3 separate regions of the Homo sapiens genome follow, and all the other regions are linked to region 3. Evidence: fine-mapped expression QTL. A gene starts in region 3. Each other region holds a variant in brackets. All regions are shown on one strand. Distances are between the middles of the regions.

Region 1 (8,189 bases), 220 kb before region 3:
AGGTCAGGTTTGGAAGTTCAGCTTTAATATCCCCTCCTTTGTGACACCATCACTAATCCCCCCAGTTATTAGAAAAGAGAACTTGAAAGGCAAGATTCAAATCTTATTTGTCTCTGTGTCCTTGGTACCTGGCATATACTCTGACCTGATATTCAGATGAACCAAATAAACTGATCCTTCCTCTTGATACCCTCAAACTTCAGCTTGCAATCACTCACCTTCTGCTTGGATACGATTTTTGAAATGGATGGTGGTACTGGCAAACTTTATGAGCAAAACTGAAAATCTTATAGAAAAAGAGTGGGGAAAATTTACAAATAATGCTTACATATTTACACATACATACAGAATAAATAAAACTTCTAGAAAATATCTTTCTTTCCTGCTTTTATTGGCATCAAAACATTTCTCCAGAAGGTCACGCTTTCCCAAAGTCACCTTCTTCTGAGATGTTTGTAATTTAGTAAACTGCCAAGCATATTGTAATGACTCAATACAATTATAGGTAATAGTATAAGAAAGCAGTATAGCATAATGCTTTCCCCATGCTTTGGAATTTTGACAGATATGAGTTCAAGATCTGGCTTTACTACTTATTAGCTGAGGAGCCTTGGGCAAATCGTTTAACTTTTCTGAGCTTTAGGTTCTGCACCTTCAAAAGTGGGAGGAGTTAAAAATGTGCCTATCACAGGATTTTGGTTAGGACTATATGAAATAAATGTAAAATTGCCTGGCATATGACAGTCCATAAGTGTGTTAGCTGTCATCCTTCAACTTTTTAGAAATATTGCTAGGGTGATATGGTGTGCTCAAGCTGACTCACCCCTTTGATGTGCAGCTGGAAATACAGACCTGAATTTCCAACGCTGCCTTCTCTCCTGAGATCCAGAGCTCTACGTCTAAATGCTTCTTTGATACCTCTACTCATAAGCTCTGCTGGCACTTCATATTTAAAATGGCCAAAGCTGATTATTTTCCCCTCAAAACAAATCTACTGTTTGTTCCTATATTCCCAATCTCACTTAACAGTACCTAGTATGAAACACAAGCTAAAAATCTGGGAGTCATCTTAAGAATCTTTCCTTTTCCTCACATTCTATATTTTGCCAAGATTCCTGTTAACTCTACCTCTATAACTATATCTAATATCTGTTTCGGACCCTACTCCATCAGGCAGCCATTTTCTCTTGCCTAGATTACGAGACTGTTTATAATCAATTCTTCCCTTTCTGACCCATCTGTCACATGGCTCAACGTGAAGTCTGATCATGCTGCATCCATGAATAAGGCCTCGAAGTTAAAAACGAGTTGATGTCCTGGACTCAATCATATTATACATATTTTTCAAATTCCTAAATGATAATGGTATAGCTTTTTCGTTTTTATACTTGTTTCTCCTAAAAGCCTATGAAATCCTTAAGGCAAGAGATATCTTCCTATGATGTTCTGGCACATAACAAAAATGTAAGATTAAATGAAGGACTCTACCACAGTTTAGCAAGCACCATTTATTTAATCAACGTTATTCAGCTCCTTTCCAACACTTTACCACTTCTAATACACTTCTTGGCAACTTTATGTGCTGCAGATCTAGGCCATATGTGCAGAATGAAATCTCTCTAGCACTGTCTTTTCTACATGTATGCCAAAATACCGACATTGCTACTGAAACTCCCCACAAAACATTTGAAATGAACATGAAAATAAATTTGTTTCCTCTGCCTGAGGCATCAGTCTCATAAAACTTGCCCACCAAAGCCTTGCATTTAGAATGCTGTTTTATTAATAAGAACATCACTGGTGAGAAAGTGTGACTGATAAAGACCTCTGATACCTAATAACTGTGATCATTGGGGAATGTCTGCCATATCCCTTCCACTTCAAACATTAATGACTGATACTAACCATCATCTAAAAAAAAAAATGGGCCAAACTCCTTGTGATGCAAGGAGCAAAAATGAAGCATGGAATTAAAATTAGTTTTCAGACTAAATGATCAACATTGTGCTTTGCTTTTGAAGCTCACAGTAATCAGTGAAACTAAAATATATATATATATATTTTAAAAATCACAGGTGTGTATAATTGCCTGAGGCCTCTTCCTAAATTCAACACAGATATTCAACTTCAACTGCTAAAATGGAATAAAAAGGTAGCATTTCCGGCATACAATGTATATTTAAAAATTAAAATTAGTGATAATGTTGAGTTACAATGACCTATTGAAGTCACAATTATTTCAGTTTATTTTTGAGTTTTCCGACCTGAAGGACAAAAGTCCCACACCAAAAAAAGGTAGAATATGAAAAAAAAGTCATTACGGTGTCATTAACCTGAAAAAACGTGATTTTAACTATACTTTGCCACACTCAACGTTACAAATAAAAGAATCTTACCATGCCATTATGCCTTGATTAACTGCGCTCCGGAATCAATCATGGCCTATGGTGTACGATTATAAAACAGAAAAAACAAAGTTCCATCTCATTTCTTTGTACACACATCATTACACAAAGGTGGAGAAACCCTGTGCTAATGTTTGAAGACTATTCTTTTTTTTTTCCAAGAGAAAAAGTTAACACTAGGACTTTATATATTAAGTAATTAAGTAAAAATAACGCTGTCTAAATTATTTTGAAATGCTGCCTCTCTTCCAAGTTCCAAACTATCTCAATTCACTTAGAAAAACGTTTAATCAAAAAACAATTCTAGGCTTCTGATATCCTAATGTAGAAAAAATGCAGATACTCAACACTTAAGATTTTGTTAGCGCACCAAATCATTCCATCTTTTACTTTCAATATTCCTTAAATAATAAAAAGACGGGAGAGATAATTCAGTTGCAAAGACTGGAGGAAACTTGCAGAACTTCTAGTGGAAGTTTATGCCATAAACTTAATAGCCCAGCCAGAACAATCACATTCTACTGCAAGCCAAATGGAGAAAAGAGTACCTTGGAGTGCCCCTATTTAATAAACACGGAACGAGGAAACAGTTAACTGTAAATACAGTCTAGAGGTATCCAGGTGACTGACAGTTCTCCAGAGACCCCGAGAACAGCGTAAAAGACCCCTTGAGGTCACCTCACCCCTGCGAGTCCACGGATTGGGACCTGAGGGAGTTCTCGCCAGCCCGAGGGCGAAAAACGGGCGAGGAGGAACAGATGCTCCTCCCTGGAAACCGCCCGGCCGGTTTCCGCTCTTTCAAAAAAGGGAATCACCCGTTTCTTCCATCCCGACCTCATCCATTCCTCGAACGCTCCTTCTGGATGAGGAAGATGGGCAGTGTCAAGGTTTTCTGGAGGAGAGGAGATCTGGGTCCCAAACACAGGAAAGGCCCCGAAGGCACGCGTACCCCAAGGCCGGTATGTCACCCGGAAGGGTGACGGCAGCCTGCGTGGCGTCTGAGCTAGACGGAGCATCTCCCCCTCCCCTGGTCCGTCGCCATCACCTCCTCTTCCTCCTCCTCCTCGCCCACTCCTGCACTTTCCACCGCGGCGGTCGCCTCCCCGGAAAGCACTCTCAACTCCGGCGCCCGCAGGCCACTTCCGCCTATGTGTCCCTGCGCGCGTGCGCAGACGCGTGGCCCCGCCTCCCGACAGGCCTGTGTGGCCGGTGGCGGGCGGGCCGTTACCTCCCGCGCATGCTCTATGGGGTAGAGA[C/T]GCTAGGCCGGCACTGCCTAGGTGGGCCGGGCGGTGCGAGGGTCGCCTTTCAGCCTTTACCTCTACCCACTGAAATGGAGTAGGTCGGTGAGCGCCGATCTGCTGGAGAATCTCATTATCCCATCGGCGCTCTGCCTGCTCCTGGCCTCCAAGCCTCTGAAGCCCCTCGGGTTTCAGCTGCCGGCTACCCTCGAGCCCGTGGTGCCCACGAGAGAGGCGACTTTACGTCAGCGGCCCTGGGCTGAGATTTGAGAACGCGACCAAGTGGAGAATGTTGGAGCCAGATTTTAAAATCCTTGTCTTCCTTCTGCGTGCTACTTGATCTAAATGAGATACGGCAAAGTCACAGAACCTGTTTTTATGTTTTTGCCTGATTCATACGGGCTTCTCCGGTGAAGATGGGCCTGAAGTAACGCTTGGGTTGCTTCTGACGTTATAACTCATCCTGTAGCTGCAGCAACCGTGGTCCTTGCAACCTCATAAAAATGTTGCCAGCATTGTTTCGATAGTGCTGCTTAATTCTTGGAAGGTAAATCTCAAAGCTTGAGGACCAGCCATCAAAACTTTTGTAAAAGGTTTTCCCCGCGTTTAGGGCCTCATCCATCACCACTGAGATGTAATAACGTAAAAACCAAGACGGTTTGGGGATGAGCTGTTTTCAGAGAATAATTAAGGAAAATATTACTGTAACGAAGATGGACAATTTTTGAAAGCATGCCTTGAATACCAGAAAGGGATGAATTGGATTAATATGTATGTTAGAATCCAGTCAGTTATGGACAACTTTTAAAATTTTACAGGCACTCTTCAGAAAGGGTAGCATTTGTGTCTTGTATTGGGATCGAGGGTTTGTAAGAAAGCAAGGCACCTACTTTGGTGGTGAGAAAAAAAGGTCTGGGTAGACATTTTCGTTTAATACTTGCCAACGTTGTTAGGCTGGTGTTAGCAACACTTAGGAATGTTGGAATTAAGGCTTAGAGAACTTAAATTTCCTAAAGAGATAGTAAATGACAAAACCTTTCAGTGATGCCATATCGTCACTGTATAATGTGAATTTAGTACTACTGTTAGCCATTTATATGGTGGTTATTTATCAAGTATTTATTAAATGGGCATATGTATAGCTCATATCGTAAACTATGCGTATGAGCTCCCTGTCCTGAAGAAATTAGGGGTTTCCATGAGAAAGTAAATGGCAGTATAAAACAACTTAAGGTACAAGAGGTGTTACAAGGTACCATCTGCTCATGCCTGGACAATTGCAGTAGCCGTGAGCATAGCTTTCTGCATTCCCTTTATTTCTCTACATAGTTGCATTCAGCAGCTGGAGTGATCCCATTAGAACCTGAATATGCCACTCCTCTGTGCAGAACCTTTTAGCGGTTTACCATTTTACTCAGATTAAAGTTCAAAATTCTTACCCTGACTTTTAAGACTGAACTTATTCTTGATGGATCACATCCAAGCTACACTTCAGAGCTTTTCTAATTGCCCCCAAGCACAGCAAGCATCAGTGCTTTGTAGCTGTTGTTCCTTCTGCATGGAACACTGCCCTCTCAGATGTCCACAGAGCTTGCTTCCTCATTTTTTTCCAGTCACTGCTCAAATGTCACCTGGCTCTTCTCTGACTACCATGTCAGTGAAATATTTTTACATGTCAAATGTGAAATGTAGGAGAGACTATCTGGAGTAGTACTTATTATAGAGTAGGTGTTTAATAAATATCGACTCTCTTACAATACTTCCCATTTACTCCTGTGATAACCACGTGGTAAACAAAATTAAAGACTTGCAGCTATGAATTGTTTTTTATTGACTGATTGACTGATTGAGGCAGAGGCTCACTCTGTCGCTCAGGCTGGAGTGCAGTGGCACATCTCAGCTCACTGCAACCTCTGCCTCCTGGGTTCAAGCCATTCTCCTGTCTCAGCCTCCCGAGTAGCTGGGATTATAGGCGCCTGTCACCATGCCCGGCTAATTTTTGTATTTTTAGTAGAGATGGGGTTTCACCTTATTGACCAGGCTGGTCTCGAACTCCTGACCCCAAGTGATCCACCCACCTCAGCCTCCCAAAGTGCTAGGATTATAAGCGTGAGCCACTGCGCCTGGTCCTATGAATTGGTTTTAAATTTTTAAGAAATTAATAATTCTGTAGTATCAGAAACCTTTGGTGTCTTGATTCACATCTTCTGAGCATCACCTCTCATTTCTGACTTGGTTGTGGGGGGCAGTTTCATGCAATCTTACACATTCTTCTCCCTGACAGCTTCTCCTCTCCCACATTTACCAGGCCTCTTTGCTTTCTTCCCTGAGGTTCTTCGGACTTCACACATTCCAGCAGTAGCTCTCTCAGCTCCTGTCCTGCACAGCTTTGAAGTGCTGGTAAGTCAACACATCTGGGGCCCTTCAACCAAGGGGTGACAGTCACTGATGGATAAATGCTCTTGCTTCTTACACTTGAGCAAGATAGTTTTGTAGGCCATTCTGTGTGTTTTTCAAAAAGTCCCAGTGAAATTGGGTTCTGGTTTCTCACAACAGCAACTTCAATAACACATTCTTGTATTATGTCTATATTCTCCCTTCCATTCTCTCATTGTTTCTCACTAGGATCACATCCCAAATTACCTGTCCCCACATAAGTAGTTGTCTCAGGTTTTGAGGGAAACCAAGCTAAGAAATTTGATGTAAGAAGAAAGTCTAGAATGCAGCTCCTCAGAACTCTGGAAGTGGGTTACTTTGCAGTCAGATGACAACAAGGACTTTCTTAGTGATATTAAGGGGAGGACATGTGCATGGCCCAACAATTAAGGCTCTTTCTTACTAAAGCCGATATGACTACTGCCTCTTTGGATGTCCAGCCCATCAGCAGCAAAGATTGATGGTAAATTCCATAAGGAGAGCAATTACACAAAAGTCCTTCCTTCCTGGAGAGAGCCGTGGTTTGTACTTACGGAACTGACACTTCCCTTGATATGACTGGTCTTGTTCATGGTGCCTCTGCCAGTACCATTATATAACAGAGTTACAAACACATGATTGATTGACTTCCTTCCTTCCTTCCTTCCTTCCTTTCTTTCTTTCTTTTTTCTTTCTTTCTTTCTTTCTTTCTTTCTTTCTTTCTTTCTTTCTTTCTTTCCTTCTTTTTTTCTTTCTTTTTCTTTCTTCCTTCCTTCCTTTTTCTTTTTCTTTCTTTCTCTTTCTCTTCCTTCCTTCCTTTTTCTTTTTCTTTCTTTCTCTTCCTTCCTTTTTCTTTCTTTCTTTCTCTCTTTCCTTTCTCTCTCTCTTTTCCTTCTTTCTTTTCTTTTTTCTTCCTTCCTTTCTTTTTTCTTTCTTTCCCTTCCTTCCCTCCATCTCCTCCCTCCCTCCCTCCCTTCCTTCCTTCCTCTTTCTTTCTCTCTTTCCCTCCCTCCCTCCCTCCCTTCCTTCCTTCCTTTCTTCCTTCTTTGACACAGAGTCTCACTCTGTTGCCCAGGCTGGAATGCAGTGGCACAACCTCTGCCTCCCAGGTTCAAGCCATTCTCCTGCCTCAGCCTCCCCAGTAGCTGGGATTACAGGTGCCTGCCACTACACCTGGCTAATTTTTTTGTATTTTTGGTAGAGACACGGTTTCACCATGTTGGCCAGGCTGGTTGTGAACTCCTGACCTCAAGTGATCTGCCCACCTCAGCCTCCTAAAGTGGTGCAATTACAAGCGTGAGCCACCACACCCAGCCCAAACACATGATTTTCTGATGTATTGCCTCCAACTAAAGGACACACTTTATGGTAAAAGAGGTGTGACAATGACACACGACCATGGAATTCCACTGGTCCTACCATATATTGTATCAACTGGAGGAAATTGGCCTGATAGAACACTGACATTGTTTTGTGAACATCAGCAAGTATCCTTTTCAGGAACAGTGCTCAGATAGGGTTGAGATGCCGTCACTCCTGACACACACACACACACACACACACACACACACACACACACACACCTGGCCCTTGGGAAGTTTGGTGGCATTAACACCCCCAGGCAATGATCCACCAATGGGGAATGGGCACCTATGGATAAATGCCTTCCATTTCCTAGGAGCAATTTTTGGGAGGTGTTTTTATGTATTTTAGGATGTCCTAGATAATCAAGTCATGTGACTTGGGGGAGCGAGAAAGAGAAACCAGCAGTGGAGACTTAGAAGAAGCAGCTGTTGACATAGGATGGGTCCAGGAATGTACAGTCTTCTAAAAGCCAGGTGAAGACAATGTTTAAAGGAGGAAGGAGTGATCAACAATGTCAGTTCGTGTCAATTGGTGTTACTTAGTCATGTGTCTGTGAAGAATCATCTTGCATAGTTAAGTCTCAGGTTCTAGTGTCAGATTAAATTTAAATCCTTGCACCACCCCTTGCTCTTTGAGTGTCTTTGTGCAAATTGCTTAAATTCTCTAAGTCTCAATCTCCCCATCTGTGAAATGGGAATGACAGTAGTACCTATGTGGTAAATTGTAGTGATGAGTAAGTGAAAGATGTTTAAAGATGGTTAAATGG
Region 2 (8,189 bases), 200 kb before region 3:
AATAGAGATGGGGGTTGCACCATGTTGGTCAGGCTGGTCTCGAACTCCTGACATCATGATCTGCCCACCTCATCCTCCCAAAGTGCTGGGATTACAGGCTTGAGCCACTGCTCCCGGCCCAGAATTCTTAGCTTGAAGGAGAGAAGAACAAGAGCAAGCTACAGCTATAATTGGTAAAGAAGTAATTCTCACTTATATTAGCCCAGATAGAGAGACGTTTGTTCATTTTGGGAGTTTAGACAATGTTCTTGTTTTTGTCTGAGTTCAGACATGATCACCAAGTGGTCTTGTGTTCATTTTGATCCGTCATTGTCATGGAATAGACTTGTCCACTATTGGTGTTCTGTGAAACTGGTTATGATCAACAGAAGGACACTGTGTCTTATTGGATAGTACCAGTCAATCTCCCAGCTATCAGGAGCTGCTTTTCTTTTTCTCACTACTATGGTCATGTACTGGCATGGTGAGTGCCAAGACAAGTGAGACTCCTACAGCATCCACTACTTTTCACTTTCTTCCATTCTATAGATTGCTGCTGGGTAGGTATTGATATTTTTACAATATTTCTTTTACCATAGTTTTACCATGTGTATTAGTTTCCTTTAGTGCAAAACAAGTTACTGCAAACTTAGCAGCTTAAAACAACACCTATTTATGAGCTCATAGTTTTGTAGATGAGAAGTCTGGGTATGGGTTGACTGGATTCTCTGCTCTGGGTCCCATAAAACCAGAATCAAGGTGTTGATTAGGACTGTCGTCTTATCTAGAGCTGAAAGTCTTTCTTCAAGCTCATTCAGGTTGTTAGCCAAATCCAATTCTTTGCACTTATTGGACTGAAGTCCCTGTTTCCTTGCTGGCTGTCAGCTGACGGGCCTCTCTCCGCTTCTGGAGGCTGCCTGTGATTCTTAGCCAACTGGTTCACTCCATGTACAAAGTCAGGTGTGTCAAAACCTTCTTGTGTTTCAAAACCCTGATTTTCTCTGTCTCTGACTGCTAGACCCAAATCTAAAGGGCTCATGAGATTAAGTTATGTCTAAAAGGATAATCTCTCTTTTGATTAAGTCAGATCAACTGATTAGTAACCTTAATGATGTTGGAAAAATCCCTTTTGCCATATGATATCACATTTTAAACTCAGATTATTTCAAGAGTCATTCACGTTTTTGCATTCATCAATAAAGCATTTATTGTTATTGCTGAAGTAAAATTCCATTTCATGAAATATTATTTATCATTTCACTGTTAATGAAAATTTAGGCCATTTCCAGGTTTTGGCTGTTACTTGTCAGGATGCTGTTGAGCATTCATGTTACAAGTGTTTGTGTGGACCTATGTTGCCATTTCTCTTGGGTAAATATTAATACCTAGAAGTGGACTAGTTTTGTCACATAGCTGTGTATTTAACTTTTTAAGAAACTGCTGGCCAGGCACGGTGACTCACGCCTGTAATCCCACCACTTTGGGAGGCCGAGGTGGGTGGATCACCTGAGGTCAGGAGTTCGAGACCAGCCTGGCCAACGTGGTGAAAACCCGTCTGTACTAAAAATACCAAAATTAGCCGGGCATGGTGGCAGGTGCCTGTAATCCCAGCTACTAGGGAGGCTGAGGCAGGAGAATCGCTTGAACCCAGGTAGCAGAGGTTGCAGTGAGCCGAGATCATGCCATTGCACTCCAACCTGCCGGACAAGAGCGAGACTTCGTCTCAAAAAAAAAAAAAGAAAAGAAAAAGAAACTGCTAAACTGTTTTCCAAAATGCTTATACCATTTTACATTCCCAACAGCAGTAGATGAGAATTCTGTTCACTTCCCATCCTAGCCAGAAGACTGGTCCAGTCTTTTTCATTTTAGCCATTTTAAAAGGCTTAGTAGTATCACACTGTGGTTTTAATTTGCAATTCTATAATGTCTAATAATATTAAATACTTCTCATATGCTTATTGACTTATTGAGCGTCTTTTCATATGCTTTATTGAGTTCTGTAGATCTTCTTTGGTGAGGCATTTATTCACATTTTTTGCCCATTAAAAAAAATTTTTTTTAACCTTTAAAATTTTTTCAACTGTTTTATTTCTTTTTAAAAATTTTCTATAGTTAGGATGTAAAACCTAATGTTTTCATATACATTTACATAGTGAAATGATTACTACAGTCATGCAAATTAACATATTTGTAACCTCCCATAGTAAGCTTTTCTTATTATCACATTTTGAGAATTCTTTATATATTCTAGATCCAAGCCATTTTATGAGAAATGCAGCTTGCAAATATTTTACCCCATGCTGATGCTTGTTTTATCATTCTTTTCATGATTTCTTTTGAAGAGAAGTTCTTAATTTTGTTGTGTATAATATTAATTAATTTATTTTTGATGGATTGTGCTTTTTGTGTCATAGCTATTAGGTTGGGGCAAAAGTAATTGTGGTTTTGGCCATTAGTTTCCATGGGAAAAACTGCAATTACTTTTGCAGAAACCTAATAATGTATCTTTGCCTCAGTGTCACAAAGATATTTCCTATTTTACTTTAGAGGTTTTCAGTTTTAGGTTCTACATCTAGGTCTGTGATCCATTTTGAGTTAATTTTCACATATATTTTGAGGTCTTTAGTTCATCTTTGTTTTTGAAAGTTGTTTTCACTGGATTTTAACTTCTAGGATGATGGATGTTTTTCTTTCAATACTTTTGTGATGTTGCTGCACTCTCCTTGCTTGCATTGTTTCCAATGAGAAATCTGCTTCTCGGGACACACTAAAGATGAAAATTACTCTTTTGGAGTTTTGTTGTTGTTCATCTATATTCTGGACACAGATTGTGACCATTTACCAACTGGAAGTACATTATTTTAAAACAAGTGAAATGTAAATTCCTGTCTAAAAGTGATTGATATTTCCAGAGGAATTCAATAGATATGGTCTTCCAGATATATAAATAACTTTCAATTTTTGTTATAGTGGTTGATCCAGGACAATGTATCATAAATTCTAGAAGCTTCATGTTGGTGTCCTAGGAGACAATATTGCAGCAGAGGTTAGATAGCCACTCTGCATCTTTGGAATAAAACAATTGCTACTTAGCAGAACCCAGGGTTAGACAAATCAGTCTTGTACCTATTTGAAAGGAAGAAGTATTAAAAGAAAATAAATCTTTATCAACAAATTTCATCTCAAATGCTATTATGGAAATGCAAGTTTCAATTCATTTATATAATTGAATAAAGTAAAATTTATAGTTGTTTTCAAAGCTTTCATTTGGCTATAACATATGTTAAATTTTTTATTTTAGATCTTTTAAAAATTGACTTAGTAATCAATAAATTAAAATATTTTATTATAATATTAGTCTGATATGTGGAAATCATACTAATTTTTGGTGAGTTGTAATTGCAGTTAAAGGCAGTTTGCTACATTTAATACTAGAAAGTATGCAAAAATCTAAAATCAACATGTGAAATGCATTCTATTGTTTTTGCAAAGAAATTAATAGCATAACATATACCTACATTAAATATACATAACATATAAATAAATATATGAAATAATATTTATATAATCGATATAAAAACTGCTTTCAAAATATATTGTATTTTTGCATTTTAAAGAAACAAAGAGTCAAAGAACTTGTAAAGAATTTGTTCAATTTCTGTTTATAGCTAATACTGGACTAATTCATGACAGAAAGATAGGTGGAAATAATTATTTCTGTGTCCTCTGTACGCCAGAAGAAAAGTTTCTATAGTTGAATAAATACAATTAAATGAAGTCCAAAGAGGTATATGTTGCAGCTATTTCTTTTAATCTTTTAAGATATTTGAATGTAATATTTAAAGACATAATTACTTCTTTAAGCTTTAAGGCTAAAGTTCTTAAACAGAAAGACAATAATCAATGACCAGAAAAGCAATCCAAAAAACCATAATGATAAATGCGTAACTCTAGATGAATATTAGTTCACTTTTTCATGAGTCACTTATGTTACTAATGACTTAGCAATCCTAGTTTACTTTATTGTATTATTATGCGTGCTAAGATTCTTGTTATTTCTGTACAGAGAAAGAGGAAAATACAAGAATTTTCTTTGTATTTTCTGAGAATGAGGTTTGATGTGATGAAGGTTTTTCATGGCTTTTTGAATTAGTTTTTTAAAAAAACTTTTGTCTTATAAGAAATTTGTACTCAGCTTATGTTTATTATGAATTGTTTCTTCTTTGAGTCATGTTTATTACATCTTTGAATTGCCAATATGATTATCCCGTATCATAAAAATATACTGTCTTTCTTTTGGAGTTGTTACTGAGTTATTGTTCATTTCAAAGGTATAATCAAGTTCTTAAATTGCTAATATGACTATTGAGTTTAAACAGTCTTGTCTCTTTTCTCAATAATCCTTTTACCAACTCCTTTCCCCACCTCTGAAGTTCTTTGAATCAATTTTCATCACAACAAAATAATTTGTGACCATGGTTCAGTTGCCTTTAGTTTGCTTTCATCACAATAGTCTTTCATAAAATAAGCTCTTTTGTGTGTATGTATATATATATATATGTGTGTGTGTATGCACA[T/TACAC]ACACACACACACACACACGTATACTGTTTTTCTATTTGTACTCTGTGTGATTATTTTGATGTGATTTAGGTCTTAACAGTAATCTAACTTCTTTTAGAAATAGAATGGCCAGCTTTCATTCGTTTGGACATTTAGGATTATATAACTCATATGGAAAAGAAATATTACTTTAGATGTCTTCTTATAACAATAGCCTATTGGATTCATCAGGGAGGAATAAAAGGCGGTCAGGAGCAGCATAGCTTGAGGAAAAATAATAGCATTTTTGTTTCTTCCATCTTAGCGTGTCATGATGTAGAAAGAAGATGGTGTTATTTTTTACCCTTTAAAAAAACTTGTGTGGTCTTAAGTTGATAAAAATAATGGAATAATAACAGTGTATTTTCCAGGCTTGTGACATAATAGGAGAAGTTTTAGATACACGTGTGGCAGCATAAATAGCTAAGGGACTGGGGAATGAGCCTGGCTGGCACCACTTAAACGTTAGACACAAGCTCTATTTCTAAGAGCATGCTGCTGAATATAACCTCTGTGAAGAATACCTGATTCTGGGAGGATAGATGCTTCACTTTAACAAAAATTTTCATGTTATCTTAAAGGCCATTCTTTTTTTTTTTTCTTTTTTTTGAGACTGATCTCACTCTGTCGCCCAGGCTGGCATGCAGTGGCACGATGTCGACTCACTGCAACCTCCACCTCCTGGGCTTAAGGGATTCTCCTGCCTCAGCCTCCTGAGTGGCTGAGACTACAGGCATGTGCCACCATGCCTGGCTAATTTTTGTATTTTTAGTAGAGATGAGGTTTCACCATGTTGGCCAGGCTGCTCTCAAACTCTTGACCTCAAATGATCCACCCTCCTCAGCCTCCCAAAGTGCTGGGATTACAGGTGGGAGCCACCACACCCTGTTAAAGGAGCTTGATGGAGCTTTGAGAATACCAAGACTTGGGCACAAGCTGCATCTTCTTATTTTAGATTGGGTAGCACTGTCCACTGATCTTTAACTATTATTATTGCTATTATCTCTGACCCTGAATACTGTGCCATTCTTTCTTTAAAGCCGATTTGAAGCTTTAAATTACTACAGTATTTTCAGTTGTGTGGAAGAGTAAGAGTTATCCACTGTAGTGCCAAACTTAGTCTTTTGCCACCTGATGGGAATTGACATTTGGTGTGCTCTAGTACTTACTTCTTACCTGTCACGCATAGCATCAGAGGTTTTAATTGCTTTATTTGCATACAGTTAATGAGGGTAGTATAGTTGGATAATCTAAGTAACCAAGTTAGTTATGTATTGAATTAGCCAATTAAGCCAGGTAATCCCTCTGAAATGTTTTTTGTTAATAAGAAAGAAGATGATAATGAAACGATTCATCTTTGGTTCCAATCCAAGTATAGTATCCTGCTGGGATAATGGCTTTGGGGCAGCGCAGTCTAACAGCTGGTTAGTTAATAAGCTTTCAGCAGCAAAGTGATTGTAAATAAACAGAATTGGACTCTAGCTTTGAAATAATACTTATCACTAGCTATTGATCTCTGTTAAGTTCTGTGTGAAACTATATGTACACACACATATGCATATCACAGTATGGATGTGTATGAGTGTTAAGTGCTTTAGGTATAAAGTTTGAGTTGTTGAAAAGGTCTTCATTCTGTGTAGTGGGTAATTGTTAGCAAGACACTACTTAAAACACTGCTTAAATTAAGTCTCACTCACATGCGTGTGTGCTGTAGCTAATAGTATCAGTGATCTTTGATCAGTTTGTTAGGGAACAGTGTAGCAAAATGAATACTACCTGGAAATCCAGAGATCTAAATTGGAATGAAGGCTCTGCCACTGTCAAGCTTTATTACTGTGAGAGGTAGCATCTTCCTAAAGATCCCTCCCCATTCCCCTTTGCCAAGTAGATTAACAGTTCCCTTTCTTGGGCCACGACAAAATTTTTGTACTCACGTCTGTTTGCTTCTATTAGAGAAGTAATTTTGGTGTTTTGCAGTGTTGGTACATTTTTCTCTCTCCCTCCTTTACTGGGATAGGAACTCTTTGAAGGCAGTGACCATGTTTTCTGTTTGTTTTCACTGTCTTGCCATATAGAGGGCAGTCAGTGAATATATGCTAAATGAACAGATTTGTATATGAGAGCTAGAATAGAGTATCTTTAACGACTTGATGATTTCTGCTTATAACTTGATATTTAGTAGGGGCAGTTATTTGATACAATTGGTCTGTCATATATTTAGTTGAAAGAATTACTTCTAAACCTGTCATTGGATTATGCTAGGTTACAAATTCCTAACATGACTGTGCTTGCAATGCACATCTGTGTGTTATTCCCTTAGTTTTTGACTTACTGAAAAATGATTCAGTCACATTCTGAATCTCAACAATGGAAGAAAGTGTATTTGTTCATGGCTTTATGAAACAAACGCTACAATTTGAAGGTAATTTTCTTATACCTTTAAAAATATATTTCTGATTATCAATCTTATCAAACCATTGATCATGTTAGTTACTGACATTGCTAAAATGAGCAATGATATCATCATTTTAAATTGTTTGAAACTTCCAACCAAGATGTACATGCACAATCCAATATGTGATGAAATATTTAAAGGCATGAACATTAAAAAATAATTATATTTAATATAGAACTGTAATTTTGAAACTTGAACACGAGGATTACTTTACATCCTCCATGTCTGTGTATATATAAGGATGAATCTTGGTCTGGATGTGAACCTTGGAAGACAGCAATTTGGGGACTGAATTCAATACTTGGATTATTTCATTTTCCCATGTGCTTAATTAATAGGCCATGCATCATACTACTGGTGAGAGAAAATGCACCAGACATGTTTTATTCTGGCATTTGTGTGATTCTTTGTTTAATTACTGTATATTTTTATTTATTGTCTTATTTAAGTTTTAATGTTACTTGTGATTATGAAATATATCCACACAATTAAGAATTCAAAAGTTGCAAAAGCTTCTGTAAAGTTGATTACACACCCTTGGCCTTATTCATTCACCAACTTCCCCTCTTCTCAGGCAACTAATTTTGTTACCAGTATCTTAATATATTTCCAGCAATATTATATCCATAGTAATTGCATCCACACAGAAACATATATTTTCTTTTAAAAAACTTAAAATAGTAACATAATACATGATTTTCTGCATCTGCCTTTTTAAATCTAATGATGTATAATAGAGATTTCTTAGATTTTATAGTTGAAAAAACTAGATTCAGCCAAAACAGGGGCTTAGGCTGTATAAAATATACAACTTTTTGGTGGTCTATTCATATATATTTGTATTTGTAGCTGTTATTCTTACATTTATATTTTATTCACATACATTTATATCTGTATATTTTTTGGTCTATTTAATCATCATGCATTTAGTCATGACATATTCAGTATAATCAACTTTTCCTTTCAAATTGATTGTGGGGAAGGGAAGCAAAGGCCAAGTGTTTGTAGGCATGGTATAAGTTTAAACTTTAGGCTTCCAAACCCAAATTTCTATTAAGAACAGAATGACTATGTTATTCTAGAATCCAGAAACTATAATGTAATGAAGAATCATTGAAAGAAATGAGCATGCAATTATTGTCCTCAAGTAATTTAATGT
Region 3 (8,189 bases):
AGCACTCAATCAACACATTATAGAAAAACAGTGTATAAATCATACGAGAATGGATGGATATTTTATCTATAGTTTTATAGTCAATACTCAACTCTCTGCACATTTAGTATATGGCAGAGCATAATTGACATGAGGTAGTAGAATGGATGTTATTATGTTTGGAGTAGTATGGTTTATTCTCAGATGTCCATCTAATGAAAGTGGGTAGTTGCCTTGTCTTCATTCATTTGATAAATAAATGCTTATTGAGTTCCTGTATCGTAGGTCCCAGCATTGAAGCAGATCTAGGTTGTCGTTCTCATTTGTACAACATGACATCACCTCTGGGTCCAGCTTTGGCTGAGTGTGCCTCTGAAACATCTCACACATCAGAACTCTTCTCCCCTCCATGCCTGCCTCTGTTAGCCTCTCATTGCCACTTGATTCAACAGTTAGTTTTTCTTCCTGTAGTCAGCTGGTGTCTTCTACCTTGTACACAGTTGTCAGAGTGATACTTTTATGAAGTATAACATATTATTAACGTATTGCTAATTTCCTATGTCTAACTGTTTAAGGATTTGCATAGCCTGCAGGATGTGTGAGCTTCTCAGGGCGTACACGTTCTCCCATGAAGACCCCTGCCTCCCTCATCTCTTTTGTCTTGTACTACTTTGCTAGAGCTTCCATAATAAAACATTACTGACTGGGTGGCTTAAACAATAGAAATTTATTTCCTCATAGTTCTGGAGGCTGGAAGTGCAAGACCATGGTGCCAGTAGGGCTGGTTTCTCCTGAAGCCTGTCTCCTTGTTTTGTAAATACCACATTCTCTCTTTGTCCTCCCTGGGCCTTTCCTCTGTGCACACACATCCCTGGTATCTCTCTGTGTCCCAATTCTTCTTCTCCTAAGGTAGCAGTACCGTTGAATTACTGCTCAATCTAACAGTCTCATTTTACCTTAATTACCTCTTTAAAGACTCTAATTTCAAAATACAGTAACATTTTGAGGTATGGGGTTAGGACTTCAACATGTAAATTTTGGGGAGGCACAGTTCAACCCATAATGCATCCCTTACTTTCTTCCTTCTCCCTGACAAGCATCGGCCACACCAGATGTTTTTCTGATTGCACCAAAGCCTTCCGTATCTCATGCTTTGCTCCTTCTGCTTTCTTTGCATGAGATGCCTTTGTCTTATCTAGACCATTTTTCTGCCTGATGAACACTGATAATATTTCAAGATGTAATTTAGAAATCACCCTTGGCCTGGTGCAGTGGCTCACGCCTGTAATCCCACCACTTTGGGAGGCTGAGGTGGGCTGATCACGAGGTCAGGAGTTCAAGACCAGCCTGGCCAATATAGAGAAACCCCATCTCTACTAAAAATACAAAAATTAGCCGGGTGTGGTGGTGCACGTCTGTAGTCCCAGCTACTCAGGAGGCTGAGGCAGAAGAATTGCTTGAACCCGGGAGGCCAAGGTTGCACTGAGCCGAGATCATGCCACTGCACTCCAGCCAGGGTGACAGAGCGAGACTCCGTCTCAAAAAAAAAGAAGCCACCCTTTCTGTATTGTCTTTCTTGACCTCTTGGTGTCTGTGGAGATGTTCCATAGTTGCACCTGTGACAAGTGTTGTACTCATGTGGGTGCATCTGTCCTCAGTCCTAAATTGAAAACCAGAGCCTATGTTTCATTACTGCTCAATGAAGATTTGTTGGATGAATGACTTGCAGGATCTTCTCTGACCCTCTTGAGTTTTGATTGGTTGGATACATTGTTAGATAATGAGGCAACAGAAATGTTGCAGTTCCTGAGTTACCAAAGCAATTTTGTGAAGATAACTATACTGAGCAGGATAAGCTTAAGATACGTAAAGTGCAACCAAAGACACTGTGAAAGGTAACATGATAGGTTGTGCATAGAAGTGGACACAAATTGAACCAGGACACTTTTACTTTAAGCTAAACTATTATTTTCTTAGATTTATTTACAAGAAAATGATTAGAGTAAAAGTTTTGCTTTTTAAAATCACTTGAAAAATTTCCCAGAGTCTCTTTTATTTCTTTTTTCCTCACAAACAAAAGGAGCTAGCTTTTTCCTAAAGAAGTTTTATCCTGATGATTTACTAAGTGAGATATTAGATAATTACTTTTACTTTATAGATTTTTACCTGGCACCTCAGGACTTGGAAATAAAGCTTTCTTTGAGGGGAAAATGTTTTGAAACATAAAACTTCCAAGACAAAGCTGTACCCATTTTCTAGCACAATTTATAGCAACTTCTAGAATCTCATATACAAGATGGGAGTTGAAAGAATTTTATAAAATTCTCATTTAGCAATATTAGAAAAATATTTAATGCATTACCATTCATCCTTTCTTTCATAGATGTTAGACAAAAAAAATAGATCTAGATGTATTCTGACAATAGTTCCTTTCCTTCGACACTATGCTCCATGAATTGTTCTGTGGTTCCCTATTTTTTGAAATGTAGGTAAGACCTATCTTGTATACACCATAAATTATAGTTCATTATAAACTATAGCTTATAGCAAACTTTAAGCAAGAATGATGAACTACTGCAATTTGGAGGAGAGAAATCCTCTGCCTGTTGGTAGGACTACATCAAGGTAGGTAGTTATCTATGTTTCTTTGGAAGAGTCTCAAATCATGTCATTAAAAATGGCAGTACTATACATATACCTGATGGCTTTGTCCCTTGGTTAGGCTCTTCATTCATTAGTAAATTCATCAATTTATTTCCTCCATCATTCAACCTATGTTTCCTATGAGCTTGCTGTGTGCAGGATACTTTGCTACATTAACTATGCAGTGCCTTATTGTATGCAGTTATTTGCCCCATTTATTTTCATGATAAGATTTCAAAAGAAAACTCTTAATACATCCGGTGAGGGCCTTTCCACTTGAAAAAAAATGCCAAACATTTAACCTGACTGAAAATGTATCACCAAAGTGCTTGGCTTCTGGCATAAAGCAGGGACTATGTATAAACACATCATAAAAATAGATAAAACAAGACCAGAGAGCCCAGAAGGGTAAAGTTGTCCTTTAGATACAGTCATGGTGACAACCCAAGCAGTGCCAGAGGATAAAGCAAGCTGCACCAGACTTCAAGTCAACAGACATTTATTGAACTCCAGTTCTGCATGGGGCACTGTGATAGTTGCTTTTGGGGATACAAAGATGAGTGAGACATCATTCTGCCCTCAAGAAATTTACAAGGGGAGAGAGAGATACACAGAACTGCCATACAAGGCAGGATGCATTAAGTGCACAAAGAGAGATATAACTAAAGTGCTTAGGGACATGCAGGAGAAAGTGGTTAATTTTTACCATAAATATCAGGGAAGACTTCATGCAAAAGATAGGCTTTGAGTTTTTCATGTAAGTTTAGATCAGATTCTGAGAGATAGAGGTATGGGAAAGAGTGAAGTAAACAGCACATAAGAACAGTCATGAAGAAGGCAATTTCAGTGTGCAGCATTTAGAGCTTGGGTCAGAAAAGCAGGTCCACTACAAGTGGGAGCTGGTTGCTATACACTGAATGTTTGCAGTCCACAAAATCAATATGTTGAAACCCTAATCTCCAGTGTGATGGTATTTGGAGGTGGGGCCTTTGGGAGGTAACTGGGCTTGGATGAGGTCATGGGGGTGGAACTCATGATGGAATTGGAGCCTTTACAAGGGAATGAAGAGACAAGAGCTCTCTTTATGCCACGTGAGGATACAGCAAGGCCCCAATCTGCAAGCCAGGAAGAGTCGTCACGAGAACCAGACCATGCAGGAACTCTGATCGTGGACATTTCAACCTCCAGAACTGTGATCCAGTAAGTGTTGTTTAAGCCACCCAGTCTTTGTTATTTTTTATAGCAGCCTAAGCGGACTGAGACACGTGAAGGTGGACTGAGACACATGAAGCAGTCAGTGTGGGGCTGTTCCTTCACTATCTGGTGCTGAAGCTTTAAGTCCACGGGGCAGGAAGTTGGGAGAAAAGAGGGCGTGAAATAGAGAGGGGTTCGAACAATCTGGAACTCTTGAGGCTGAGCTGGTTCCCACAAGGACCAACTGGGACCCATTAGCCCCTCTTACCACCTGTTAGCCTCCATCTTTGATTATGGAATCGATTTGCTGGAGAAGCTGGAGCTTTTCCTCATGGAGCTAAATCTGCTGCTGCCATGGGTGTGATAAGCTGAAGGAGGGGAGTGGGAAGGAGCTGAGGAGCTGCACTAGGCTGCTACCCCAGCCAACCAGTTGAACTGGCACTGGGACAACCATGTATGCTGTCTGAAGCACAGCCTGACGCCCCTGTGGACCTTTATAGAATGCAAAGAGTATGGCTGCTACTTCACTTTTACCTTTCAAATCTTGTGCAAATTCACTTATGCTCCACCCCCAACCCAGAACTCTGCGGATAAAGGAATTCTGGGAAATGTAGTTCCAGTTTGTCTGAATTGACCTATTGCAAATCCACAACACAGCACCAGAATATTACCTAGGATTATATTCGACCTGTTTCAGTGCTACAGAATATTTTATCTTCTCAGAAACCATGTAGTCTCCTTAGAACATCACAGTGAGTGCAACCTCCCACAGAGCTAACCTGTGTAATTGAAACCATTTAGGGAACAATGTATTCACTTGCTAAAGATCAACCAACTTGTTCATTTTTCAATTGTTTAGGGCCTTGCTGGAATTTAACACAAGGCAGAGAATAAGATTTGAGTAAAAGAGAGAGTTATATAAAATTGATGCTTTTCTCTCTTTTTTTTAATCATTGAAAAGTGAATGGAGAGACCCTTTTTCATTTTTGCTGGACAGCTTACAAATTCTAGATACATCAGAGCTCTTACATACAGATGTAGAACAATATGGTCTTGGGAAGCTGAAAATGCTAACTGAAACAAGCAGGACAGGGGATGAGTCAAGTGATTAATTTTTTATGATGATAGATGTCTTACAACTCTTTCTTTCCTCTTCCTAGAAATGCATATGTATCTTTGGAAGAAACTCTGAAGTAAAGGCCGGAATATTCTTTGTTTAAAACATTAAAAACAAAACAGACCAAAGCATCAAGCAAGAAGTTTCCTGGCAATAAACTAAGCACAGCATTATTTTTTAAGGAACACAAATTAAGTGTTCAACCTGTGGCAAATTTGTACTTTCTCCCTGAATTATGTTGTTATCAAAGAAAAAAATTGGGAAGCATGGCAAAATATCATCAAAACTGAAACTAGAATTAAACAAAACTAAATTAAAATGAAATAAAATGATGTCCATTCTTAATTCATCCTCACAACTGGGCCACTAGTTTTATGCATCTTGGCAGCCAATATTTTTGTCTCTAGGGCATAAATTATGCATCAGGTACCTCTGAAACTCAGAGACCAAGGAAAAAGGAGGTAATTTGGAAGGTGAAATAAATGTAAACATTCTGAAGAAAGAATCAAATCTGTACTTCAGGGTCAAAGATGAAATTCAAAAGGGGTTGACAATGCATAGAAAAAAGTGCTGAATTTAAAGTTGGTTTTATTATTATCATTGTTATTTGAACCAATAATTAAATCCAGTAAGTCTAGAGCAATGATCATAATTCTGTACTGTTGTTTTTCTATTTTAGAATCCAGTGTACTGTTTCCAAGAGCTTGGCAAAAAAAAAAAAAAAAAAAAAAAAAAAGAAAAAGGAGCTTGACTCTAAATCTCTAAATCTTGGAGTCTGGATGCACTATTCATGTGATAGGCTAAAATAACTACTAATACCTTATGTTCAAACAGCACTTTATGAAGTGATTACACATAAAAGATCTTTTTTGATATAACTGTTATACGGCATATCTTCCATTTTATAGACAGGGTGAGTTGTTTGATGCGTAAGATGAGCTGAAATAGGAAAAGTGACAGAAAATTTACAGACCTATGGAATAATATTCCACAATGGGGTATTCTTTATAATTATCTGGGCTGAATAGCACCATCCAAAGTTCTTAAATCATCAACAATGCCATTTTTACTGTAGAGGAGAAGAGTTATGATCCTTTGACTCTTTAAATTTTCTTCCTTGACAAAAGTGATCTACCTTTCTAGCCAACCTGTCTCAATGATCCATAATGTTGCTACCCTGGTGCCAGATGGATATGATAGAAGGCTCCTAAAAGGCTCTTGGTTTGAGGAAAGTGTTGCTTACATACAACAGGAATCTTGTGGGATTTAAGAAGTGGGGAGATGTAAGTTTGAGTCATTAATAATTTAACTAAATTTACTTTTACAATGTTAGCATTGCTATTTTGGTTTATGTAACTTATGACTAATATTTTTAAAGATACTGAACATTATATTAATTTCTTTACAGCATGGCTTACCTTTAAATATTGCACCATGTCCATAGGTGCAATCTGTCCTAATCTATTTCTATTGAGGACCCAAAATAGGCACTAAGATGTACAGCTGTGCCAAAGAGCGATTTATCCCTCTTCTTGATCTAATGCACCGTAAAATCTAGTAATTTCTTACTGTTCCAATGATTACTTCTTGCTTATAGCTGGTACTCAGTCAAAACAGCCTGTTACCAGATTAGCTACATTATTTAGACCAAATTCCTCTTAACTGCCTACTAGATTTCTCATCTTGGATGCCCCATGGGTTCATCAAAATTAGGATGTCCAGAACGAAAGCCATTACCTTCCCCTCAAAGATGTCCTTTCTTTCTAAAATGATTCTGTCTATGTGTGAATGGCATCATGATCCCCTGAATCTTGCAAACTATTCACTTTGAAGTCATCCTTAACTCCATACCTTATTTGTTAGCCACCTCATCCTGTTAAATCACAAACGTGTTTCCAACCCGACTTCTCCAATTTATTCCTACTGATTGTGCTATTCCAAGTTCTCTATGTATTGCCTGGATTTTCTCAGCATTTTGTAACTAGTTTCTTTGTCAATAATCTCTCATTATTCTGGCCCCCAGCCTGCCAATGACCTTGCTTTAATTTTAGTGGGATGGTTTCGAGGGAATGTATGTTGGTGAAAACAATTATCTGCTTCCCTATTTAAGCTAGAATGCCTTACAAACTGCTTAGCAGAGGAATGCAGCTCTTCACAAATTTGCCCCATATGGATCCTGCCCATGAGGCAGGTTCAATAAAGTCGACCAGTGATTGTTGGAGTGATGTGCACAAAGGCGGAAAGGGAATTGAGGCATTGGCAAAGCTAGGAAGGCTGATGATACTTATTAATAGTGTGAGGCAATGTATCTAAACAGAGGTTGAAATATAGGAGAACCTGGGTTTGCTTAATGGGGCTATTAGCTGGGCAGTGAGCCTGGTGTGTACAGAATGAAAAAAGAGGTGATTGTGAGTGGGGTTGTACGTAACAGGACTCTTGTGTGGCATTCATGTGCTGTCTTTCCAGTTACTCTGACACGTGCATCCTTTGATTTAGCTGTGTAATTTCTTTCATTATTATTCTTTTAAACTGACAAATAAAAATGTATATAATTAGTGTATACAACATGATGTTTTCACATATGTATGCATTGTGGAATGGCTAAATGAAGCTGATTAATATTTGCATTCCCTCACATATGTATCTGTGTGTGTGTGTACACTTAAAATCTACTCCCAGCAATTGGAAGTAAACAATACATTGTTATTAACTCTACTTGCCATATTGCACAATAGAACTTTTGAACTTTTTCTTCCTGTCTAAATAAAACTTTGTGTCCTTTGACCAACATCTCCCCAACTTCGTAACTCTCCTACTGCTGATAACCACTATCTTACTTTCTGCTTTTATGAGTCTGATTCCTCTAGGTACCTCACATTAGTGAAACCATGCAGTATTTGCCTTTCTGTGACCAACTTATTTCACTTAGCATAATATCCTCAAAGTGTATCCATGTTGTTGCAAATGATAGATTTCCTTCATGTTTTTAAGGCTGAATATTATTACATGTGTACCATATTTTCTTCATTCATCCATCAGTGGCCACCTAGGTTGCTTCCATATTTTTAGCCATACAATTTCTTAATGTTACTTGAGCACACCTAAGACTGTATTTCCATCATTTGACATTTTGAAATTAAGACATTTTGAGAATATTCAGGGCATAAAAGTTGAATACTGTTATAAATTTCCTATTGATTATAAACTAGATCAATGTAAAATTGCCCTCTACTCAATTTCATATTTGTCTTAACAA

Which allele goes with the higher level. Positions count from the first base shown, and alleles are read on the strand shown. Sizes are in standard deviations (SD) of each study's normalised expression. Not every link is listed here.
In carriers of allele TACAC in region 2, the expression in prefrontal cortex of the gene that starts at base 3,701 in region 3 tends to be lower than with T alone (moderate effect, 0.74 SD a copy in CommonMind).

The links. PIP is the estimated chance that this variant, and not a neighbour inherited with it, causes the effect.
Region 1: its variant is fine-mapped to the expression of HULC in fetal neocortex (Walker 2019, PIP 0.95).
Region 2: its variant is fine-mapped to the expression of HULC in prefrontal cortex (CommonMind, PIP 0.95).

The regions. Positions count from the first base shown.
Region 1 is chr6:8,431,989-8,440,177 of GRCh38, forward strand. It overlaps SLC35B3 (solute carrier family 35 member B3), which reads right to left and starts at 3,557. Exons shown (of 10, transcript NM_001370479.2): 1 at 3,355-3,557. It overlaps LOC100506207 (a long non-coding RNA gene), which reads left to right and starts at 3,635. Exons shown (of 5, transcript NR_038980.1): 1 at 3,635-4,190; 2 at 5,952-6,043. RefSeq lists enhancers at 565-734, 3,185-3,324, 3,297-3,838, 3,335-3,394, 3,595-3,764 and 2 more. The variant C/T (reference allele first, on the strand shown) is at 3,662.
Region 2 is chr6:8,447,409-8,455,597 of GRCh38, forward strand. The region is part of intron 2 of LOC100506207 (a long non-coding RNA gene); the gene reads left to right. Among named protein-coding and RNA genes, the nearest start is that of SLC35B3, 16 kb to the left of the region's middle. The variant T/TACAC (reference allele first, on the strand shown) is at 4,557.
Region 3 is chr6:8,648,569-8,656,757 of GRCh38, forward strand. HULC (hepatocellular carcinoma up-regulated long non-coding RNA) reads left to right here and starts at 3,701. Exons shown (of 2, transcript NR_004855.3): 1 at 3,701-3,822; 2 at 4,977-5,288. All of the region lies in intron 3 of LOC100506207 (a long non-coding RNA gene), which reads left to right.